Linked DNA regions of Homo sapiens: region 1 is linked to region 2. Evidence: fine-mapped expression QTL. A gene starts in region 2. The other region holds a variant in brackets. All regions are shown on one strand. Distances are between the middles of the regions. Region 1 holds the start of MRPL17 (mitochondrial ribosomal protein L17). Region 2 holds the start of ILK (integrin linked kinase).

What was found. PIP is the estimated chance that this variant, and not a neighbour inherited with it, causes the effect.
Region 1: its variant is fine-mapped to the expression of ILK in whole blood (TOPMed, PIP above 0.99).

The regions. Positions count from the first base shown.
Region 1 is chr11:6,681,415-6,685,414 of GRCh38, forward strand. It overlaps MRPL17 (mitochondrial ribosomal protein L17), which reads right to left and starts at 1,926. Exons shown (of 3, transcript NM_022061.4): 1 at 1,709-1,926; 2 at 1,333-1,401; 3 at 1-988. The coding sequence starts at 1,882. The coding sequence ends at 704. RefSeq lists enhancers at 1,468-2,230, 1,647-2,086. The variant T/G (reference allele first, on the strand shown) is at 1,965.
Region 2 is chr11:6,601,549-6,605,780 of GRCh38, forward strand. It overlaps ILK (integrin linked kinase), which reads left to right and starts at 2,226. Exons shown (of 13, transcript NM_004517.4): 1 at 2,226-2,274; 2 at 2,632-2,812. The coding sequence starts at 2,724. RRP8 (ribosomal RNA processing 8) reads right to left here and starts at 2,068. Exons shown (of 7, transcript NM_015324.4): 1 at 1,856-2,068; 2 at 304-667; 3 at 1-54. The coding sequence starts at 1,954. RefSeq lists enhancers at 1,301-1,842, 1,838-2,027, 2,618-2,857, 3,088-3,247 and a silencer at 2,098-2,307.

The DNA.
Region 1 (4,000 bases), 80 kb after region 2:
GGAGCTTATCCTGGAGCCCAACATCCTCTGCTGAATGTCTCCACCCCTTTGGCCAAACTGGTGGAACATCTGAGTTCTTGGGTCCTCTCCTCCCAGGCCCATTCAGGGGGTTGAAGGGAACACATTAAGGTAATGTGTGATCCTGCCTCAAAACAGAGGACTGATTGCAGTATCCCCTGAAGGTTCGCAGGGTACTAGATTGTTTAAGGAAGTTTCACTTGCAGATTGTCACTCCCCTACCCCTGTCAGGAAGTAATCTTTCTCTAAGAAATCCCAAGCACTCATCTCTAGGAGACCAGATGTCAAAACACAACCACCTCTGGCAACATTTGGAATTATAGGATGCATTCCCATGTAAACTGGCATTAAGAAAAACAAAATTGCACTAACCAAAAATAACCCAAATTTAAGGACCAGAAGCATAAGCCATGAATTTACTATCTCAGGTAGACTGAGCATTTGGATAATTCTCATTCTCCAGAAATCCCACAGGAAGGAAAAAATAAATAAATTTATATATATTCATATAAAGACTTTTATCTATTGTGCAAAGAGAGGGTCATCTGGCTCCCCAGAAGGTTCTCAACCCCATCAAGACTGTCCATTTTACATCTCTAGCTCCAGTTCTTCTCAGAGAGTAAAAGTGCTCCAAAGGCCTGTGATCATGGGTACTGATTAAGGGCTGCAGACTCTTCAGATCCAGTTAAATCCCTGGTGTTTGAGCTGTGTGGGAGCTGTGGTTGCTTGCTTCCTGGCTTTGCCTGAGGTCCTGCCGCAAACCCTGCAGCAGCTGGTTTAGGAGTGTAAGGTGGCTGTCTCTGCGAGGCAGAGGCAGGGGTGGGAGGCAATTCCCTTTATACTCGATCACTGCCATCTTGGCCCGATCCAAACTCCGATTTGGGATCTGCAGCATTCTTGTGTAGCCCCCAGTTTGATCTTTGTACCGAGGGGCCAGTACTTGAAACAGCTTTGGGATCAAATCCTTCTCCTAGAGGGAGAATTATCCAAGAGACAGCAGAGTCAGGCAAAACTGCAGAGGCATTTAACTTTACACCATTCCCAAAGGTAAGGTCCATCCACACATAGAAAGACCTCCCCCTCCCCTCGCCAATCTGGCATAGTCAGTGTTACACAAAGGGGTCGTTTATAGGCAGTTGTGCAGAGGTATATTCACATCGACTTCAACTAACTTAAGACACAGTTTCTAATTTAGTTAGCAGCACTGGCCCATAAGTGAGTACCCAAGTTTAATTCTGCATAGTTCTCCTTTTTCCAACCCCCACCCCCAGGGAGCAAAGGGTGGGATTTTGAAGGCAGATAGGTCGCACTCACTGTGAGCCAGAAGTCAGCCATGCGCATGGCTCGTTCGTTAGTGTCTCCCAGCTTCCCATAGTCGATGAGCTGTGAGGACATAACATCACGGATCCAACCGAGCAAGAAAACAAGGTGCCAATCTAATTTCTCTAATGCCGGAAGGCAATCCATTCTTTCCACTAGCCAAGCATCTCCAATCTACGCCACCCCTAACTCCGCAGCCCTAACCAGTCTTCCATTAGAGGCGATGGAGGGGCGGGTTCAGCCCAAGGTTCTGGGGGACTCAGACTTGGGGAATGGTTTACCAGGTTGGTCCCGGTCCCTTTCCACTTGCAGCCGGCTCCGCCCCCTCAGACCAGACCCGCAGAGTGGACAAGAGGGCCGCGCTCCTCACCTTCTCCGCGTAGCCCCTCATTTCGTCCACACGCGCCCATGGTGCCTCGATGCGTTCGTGCCGCACCAGCCCTGTGAGCAAGTTCCGCAACAGATGGATGCGGGACTCGGGACCGAGGCCCATACGGCGAAATACGCGGCCATGGGAGATCGCTGCAGCGACCGACAGCCGCATGTTTCCAACTTCTGCCCGCCCCTTGGAGGCCGGAACTGGAAACTGGAAGGTAGAGCCGGTGGCGGCAATTTCAGGGAACGCA[T/G]GCGCCTTAGCTCGGAGCGTGGTGAACGTGTTTGCGCATGCGCATCAGAGCCTGCCTCGTTGGCAATCTCGGGAAGGGCGGAGAAACGGTGTTGAGCTTTTCCAGAGGCGGCGAGCTGGGCGGGCTTCAGGCATCCAGAGCGCTCTGTGGCGGCCGAAGAACCAGGCGCCCCCTAGTGTGGGATAAGCGGGCCATCGGGTTTTTTTTGGGGCTGCGTCAGCCAGTGGCATTTAGGGCGATGGGGCGCTCCGCCGCGGAGACTCCTGGGAAAGAGAGCGTCTGAAGAGAAAGGCACCCGGAGGGTTCGGGGTCCTGCGGGCTGACGGCCCTACCGGGTCCAGCAGTGGCCAGCTGGCCTGGTTGACACCTGTACGCATTGTTTTTAACACAGTGATTTTCAGTAGTAATGGTGAGATGGATAATAACGATGCCCGGAAAAGAAACGCAGATAGTGAAATTTTTCTTTTATTGAAGTAATCACTCCAGTTAAAAAAATTACAGCACTAAAGGGAAAAGTAGTAGATTGTTTTTAATTACACCAGTGTGTCTTTTTAAGGGGAAAAAACATACCTACACATTTATGTGTTAATGAACAATAATATTATAGTTTGTTTTTGAGCCTTAACATCTGCAAATTGGCAATGACTGTCAAAATTATTCCTTGTTATGGGTTGAATTGTGTCTTCCCCATGATTCTTCCCGTCCCCAAAAAGCTATGTTAAGTCCTAACCTGCAGTAACTCAGAATGTGACCTTATGTGGAAATAGGGTCATTGCAGATGTCATTTGTTAAGATGAAGTCATGCAGGCATAGGTGGGCGCCTAATCCAAAATGCCTAGTGTCTAGCTAGCTAGATAGATAGACACATATATACGTACATACATATATGCAGGCCGGGCACGGTGGCTCACTCCTGTAATTCCAGCACTTTGGGAGGCCGAGGCGGGCGGATCACCTGAGGTCAGGAATTCGAGACCAGCCTGGCCAACATGGCGAAACCCCGTCTCTACTAAAAACACAAAAATTAGCCGGGCGTGGTGGCTCATGCCTGTAATTCTAGCTACTCGGGAGGCTGAGGCAGGAGAATAGCTTGAACCCGGGAGGTGGAGGTTGCAGTGAGCTGAGATCGGGCACTGCACTCTAGACTGGGCGACAGAGTGAGGCTCTATCTCAAAAAAAAAAAAAAAAAAAATGCGCATGAAGAGAGAGAGATGGACACAGGGTGATGCTGACCAGGTAAAGACAGAGACATACAGGCAGAAAGCCATGTGACCTTGAAAGCAGAGATTATGGAGTCAAGCAGTTGCAAATCAATGAATGAACACCAAGGATTGCTGGAGCACACCTGAAGCCAAGGGAAAGGTATAAAACGCATTCTTTTTCAGATCTGTCAGAGAGCATGACCCTGCTGCTAACACATCGCTTTCTTACTTCTAGCCTCCAGAGCCACAAAACAATAAATTTCTGTTGTTTTAAGTTCCACAGTTTGTGATAGTTTGTTACAGCAGTCTTAGGAAATGAATTCACTCCTCTTTACATGTACATATTCAGTAGACGTATAGATTTGTCACTTTGTCAGCTTATAGGTGACCAAAGAACACTTCTTTGCTAATTTTAATTTTGAAAAGTTTCTTTAATATGAAGGAACAAATATGCAAATAGGAAAAGTCATGAACATATAAATACATTGACAGATTTATACAAATCACACTTCACAATTAAAGAAATTTACAATAAATTACAGAAATTACAATTACCATTCATGTTTTGTTTCTTTGGGAGCAATTCTTGTAGTTTTCAATTGTCTTTGCAGTTGAAAAATTTCACTAAGATGTTTTCACCAGGATATATATATATTTTTTTGAGACGGAGTTTCTTTCTTGTTGCCCAGGCTGGAGTGCAATGGTGCGGTCTCGGCTCACTGCAACCTCCACCTCCTGGGTTCAAGCGATTCTCATGCCTCAGCCTCACAAGTAACTGGGATTACAGGCGCCCACCACCATGCCTGGCTAATTTTTTTTGTATTTTTAGTAGAG
Region 2 (4,232 bases):
CAGGGCTTTGCTTTGGTGGATCATTTGTAGTACTACCCTTCCAGGCTTTGGGACCTACAGGGAGGGAGATGGGAAGGTGCACATGAGGCAAGATCTCTTACATTCGGAGTCACGGCAAGTCATCCCAGCCATACCTCTGTCTTTGAGATCGTGACTGTGGCCTGCAGAGAAGTACTTCTTATTGCCTGAGTACACCATTAGCCCCAATCCTAATGGCAGTGGATAATCACTCTTGTATGTAGAACCAGCTGACCCCCCGACACACACACACCAACACACACACATATACACATCCAATGGTACCTGTTTGGTCAACATTGTCCAGGTGCTGGGCTGAATTTATAGGGGCATGTTTCTGGCATTTCCTCTTTCTTTTCTCATCTTCAGCAGAGTCACTGCCAACAAGAGCCTGTTTGTGGCATTTCTTCTTCCTTTCTACTTCTTCCTCAGAGTCACTGCAAGGTGGGCCCTGTTTTTGACATTTCTTCTTCCCTTTCTTCCCTACTTCAGCAGAGGCACTGGCAAATGATGCCTTTTTGGGGCATTTCTTCTTCCTTTCCTCCTCCTCCTCCTCAGAGTCACTTATACATAGGCTGGGGGGATGCTGGGAAAGAGATGCTGCCTCTAGGGCCCGTAATGTGGCCAAGAGCTGGCGGCGCTTGGAGCCCTGGAGGAAAACAGGGGATGACAGTGGGCCTAAAGAGAATGGATGAGGCCTGGAGAACAAGAAGGGAGAGATGTGGACCTGATTCAGACTGGCAGAAGCATCTGAATTCTTCCCAGTCAAGCCTGCCAGAACCCAGAAGAACTTTTATGTCACCACCCCAACTTCTGGGAAGCTGGAGAGCAGAGAAACCACCTATCCCACTTTCTTCAATGTGTAAATGAGCTAATGGAGGTTTCCCCAAAGGAAAATGCAAAGGCCACAAGCAACAAGACCAAGGCCAGAGACCAGGAATTCCAACCCTTCACCTTGAGCTTTTGCCTAGAGCTGATACATTTCTGTAAGAGGTAAGGAGGCTTCTGAACACAGGAGACACATGATCACACACGTATATTAAATATTTAACATGTCTCTAGCTGCAGTGTAGAAAACAAACTGAAGGGGAGAAATTGCAGACAGAGAGGCCAGCGGCTTGGACAATGGTAATGGGGCTAGGGGATGAAAAAGGAGGAAACAAAGCAGGCCGATTCCATGTTGGAGGCAGACTGAAGGGTAAGAAAAGCCTGAGGAAGCAGGGCCCTCACATCTGCAGAGGCTCAAAGGAGAAGATGTATTGTCGGGAAGGCTGATTCTGTGTTGCAGTCCTACCAGGTAATCCTAGGCCAGGCACTTACCCTGATTCTAAGTTTCCCACACCCTCCTTTGAACAATGATACTGACAACTCTTACTGTCTCCAATCCATCCTCCACACTGTAACCGACGACCCTTTCAAAATACAAATCTGAAGAAATAATTCCATTGCTTAAAACCTTTCATTGGCTTCTATTCTCAATATACGCAAAACTTCTACCTCTTGAACTTGAACAGCATATATGCCCCTTTCATTTACTATGTATTTCAACCACAAGGACCACTTGTGTTTGTGACTCTGACAGAACATGCTCTCTTGTCCCAGGGCCCTTGTACGTACTTTTTCCTGTCTGAAGAACCCTCTTCGCTTCACCAACTTCTACTCAACAACTCTCTCTGACCCAACGTCAGTTTCTTTTGGAAGTTCTCGGATCTTCAGATCAGGACTCGCCCTTAACGGTGCCACAGGTGTCCCTCCCCGCAATACACACAGCGCTGGGATCCACCAATGTCCGCTTCGCGGCCTGAAACAGCTCCCATTGCTCCCGCGAGTCACTCACCTTGTTTTGCGAGGAGGCCGCAGGCGGAGGTCGTGAGATTACGGGCCCAAGGCCCGCGGCTACTGGGGCCGCCTCGGCCCACTCAGGCTCTTCGAACATGAGGGTCGGGAGGGCAGGGTCGCCGAGTCCCCGCTCTTCTCCACGTGCACAGCGCTCCTCTGGAAGTCGGAGCGCTCAGACCTGCCAGAACCGACCCGGAAACCAAAGCGTGACAGCCAGGGGTTGCTAGAGCGGCCGGCGCGGCGCAGCGAACCATCGAGTTTAGCCAGGCGCGGCTAGAAGGGCAGGGAGGCGGTGGGAGGGGAGGGACGGAGGCCCGCGCTGCCCAAGAGCGCCACGGGCGGGGCGGGGCCGGCGGCGGGCTGCGGGCGCGGCCGGACGGGAGTTCCCCGGAGAAGGATCCTGCAGCCCGAGTCCCGGTGAGTGCGAGAGGACCCGCGCCCCCTGTCACCCCTCACTTCTCCTGAGTCCCAAGTAAGGAACGGAGCCAACCCTGGGGAGGACCCCCGGTCCCCTCTCCCAGAGTATACGGAGCCTGAACCTCCCCACTTCCCCCAACTCTGTTCGCGGATAGGGTCTAGTTGCCTGCTCTCGGACATCCGTTCAGCAGACACTACCTCTTCGTCACCCCCTGCCCACCCTGACCCGCCTTTACCTCGCGTCTAGAGGACACAGCCAGGGATCATCCCGCAGCCCCGAACTCCTTCACAGACCCCCACTAGCCGGGGACGCAGCTCAGGCCCCCTACCCCCAACACAAACACTTCTCTCCTGTAGAGGATAAAGCTTGGGGTTCATCCTCCTTCCCTGGATCACTCCACAGTCCTCAGGCTTCCCCAATCCAGGGGACTCGGCGCCGGGACGCTGCTATGGACGACATTTTCACTCAGTGCCGGGAGGGCAACGCAGTCGCCGTTCGCCTGTGGCTGGACAACACGGAGAACGACCTCAACCAGGGGTGAGCTGAAACGGTTGGTGGATGAGAGGAAGGCTAGAGATCTCCTGGCTACGTGGAGTGGAGTGCTCATGTCTGGTGGTGGCGGCTGCCTTTGCTAGCCAGTGTAATGAGTGCTAAGCATAGCCTGTGGGGGGCAGAGGGTTTTCACAGAGGACGCAGTTTGAGCTGAATCTTGACTGCAGAATAAGAGTTTCACAGGCAGAGGCTACAGAGAGCTTTCCAGCCTCAGTAGACTGCATGGCCAAAGGCTAGGGGGCAAGGCACAGAGCAGAGAGAACAGGAAATTGTCTGGAGTTCCATATGGCTGGAGGATAGATGATCTCTGTGGGTCGGAGCATTGGGTACAAGAGGAAAAGAACAGGACATAAGACTGTAGAGGTCTCCAAGGATCAGCCAGATCATGCAAGCATATTTAGGCTATAAGAAGGTCTTTATTTTAAAAGCAAGGTTTTAAAGCTGTATAGTGACATAATGAGATTGTCCATTTTTCAGTATCGTCTTGGATGCTTTGTGAAGAGCAGGTGGAAAGGAGGCAATTGCCTAGTTCATCGTAGAAGTAATGATGTCTTGGACTAGAATTAGGGTGAGTGAAAAAGAGAAGTGATCAAATTCCAGAAGTCTTTAGGACGAAGAATTGTGGAACTTGGTGTGGGGAGTGAGTAAGGGCAAAGATGAGGACCAGGGTTCTGGCTTGGGAACTTGGTTGTTTTTACTGAGATGGAGAAAACTGGAGGATGAGGCATTTTATTTTGGACATGTTAAAGTTAAGGTGACAATACAGCAAGGTGGAAATGTTGAGTGTGTTGTTGGTTATGCAGATTTGCAATTCAGGGGAGGAATCTGACTTGGAGACACAGATTTGAGAGCTATCAGCATATAGATAGCATATATATATCATATATATAGATGATACTTGAAGACGTGGTTGTGAAGGAGAACGTCTCAGGAGAGTGGAAGGCAAGAGGTCAGGGGACAGGAAGCCTGCACGACAGAAAAGGAGCAACCGCAAGTTGAAAAAGAAATAGGAAAATGTGTGAGTAAAGCTTACAGAAGAGAATGTTTTAATGAAGGGGAGGTAGTCAACGGCAGTACAGGCTACTGAGAGATCAAAGAACATTAATATTTTAAAGTAGCCATTGAATTTACAGTTGGGTTTTTTTTTTTTAAGTTAAGGGGTACATGTGCAGGTTTGTTGGATGGGTAAACTCAGGTCATGGAGGTTTGTTGTGCAGATCATTTCATCACCCAGGTATTAAGCCGTGGCACCCATTAGTTATTTTTCCTGATCCCTCCCTCTTCCTACCCGCCCCACTCTGGTAGGCCCCAGTGTCTGTTGCTCCCCTCAGTGTGCAGTTAGGATGTATTTGACCATCTGTGAGTGTTGTTTCAGAATAATGGGTGAAGAAATCAGACTACATTG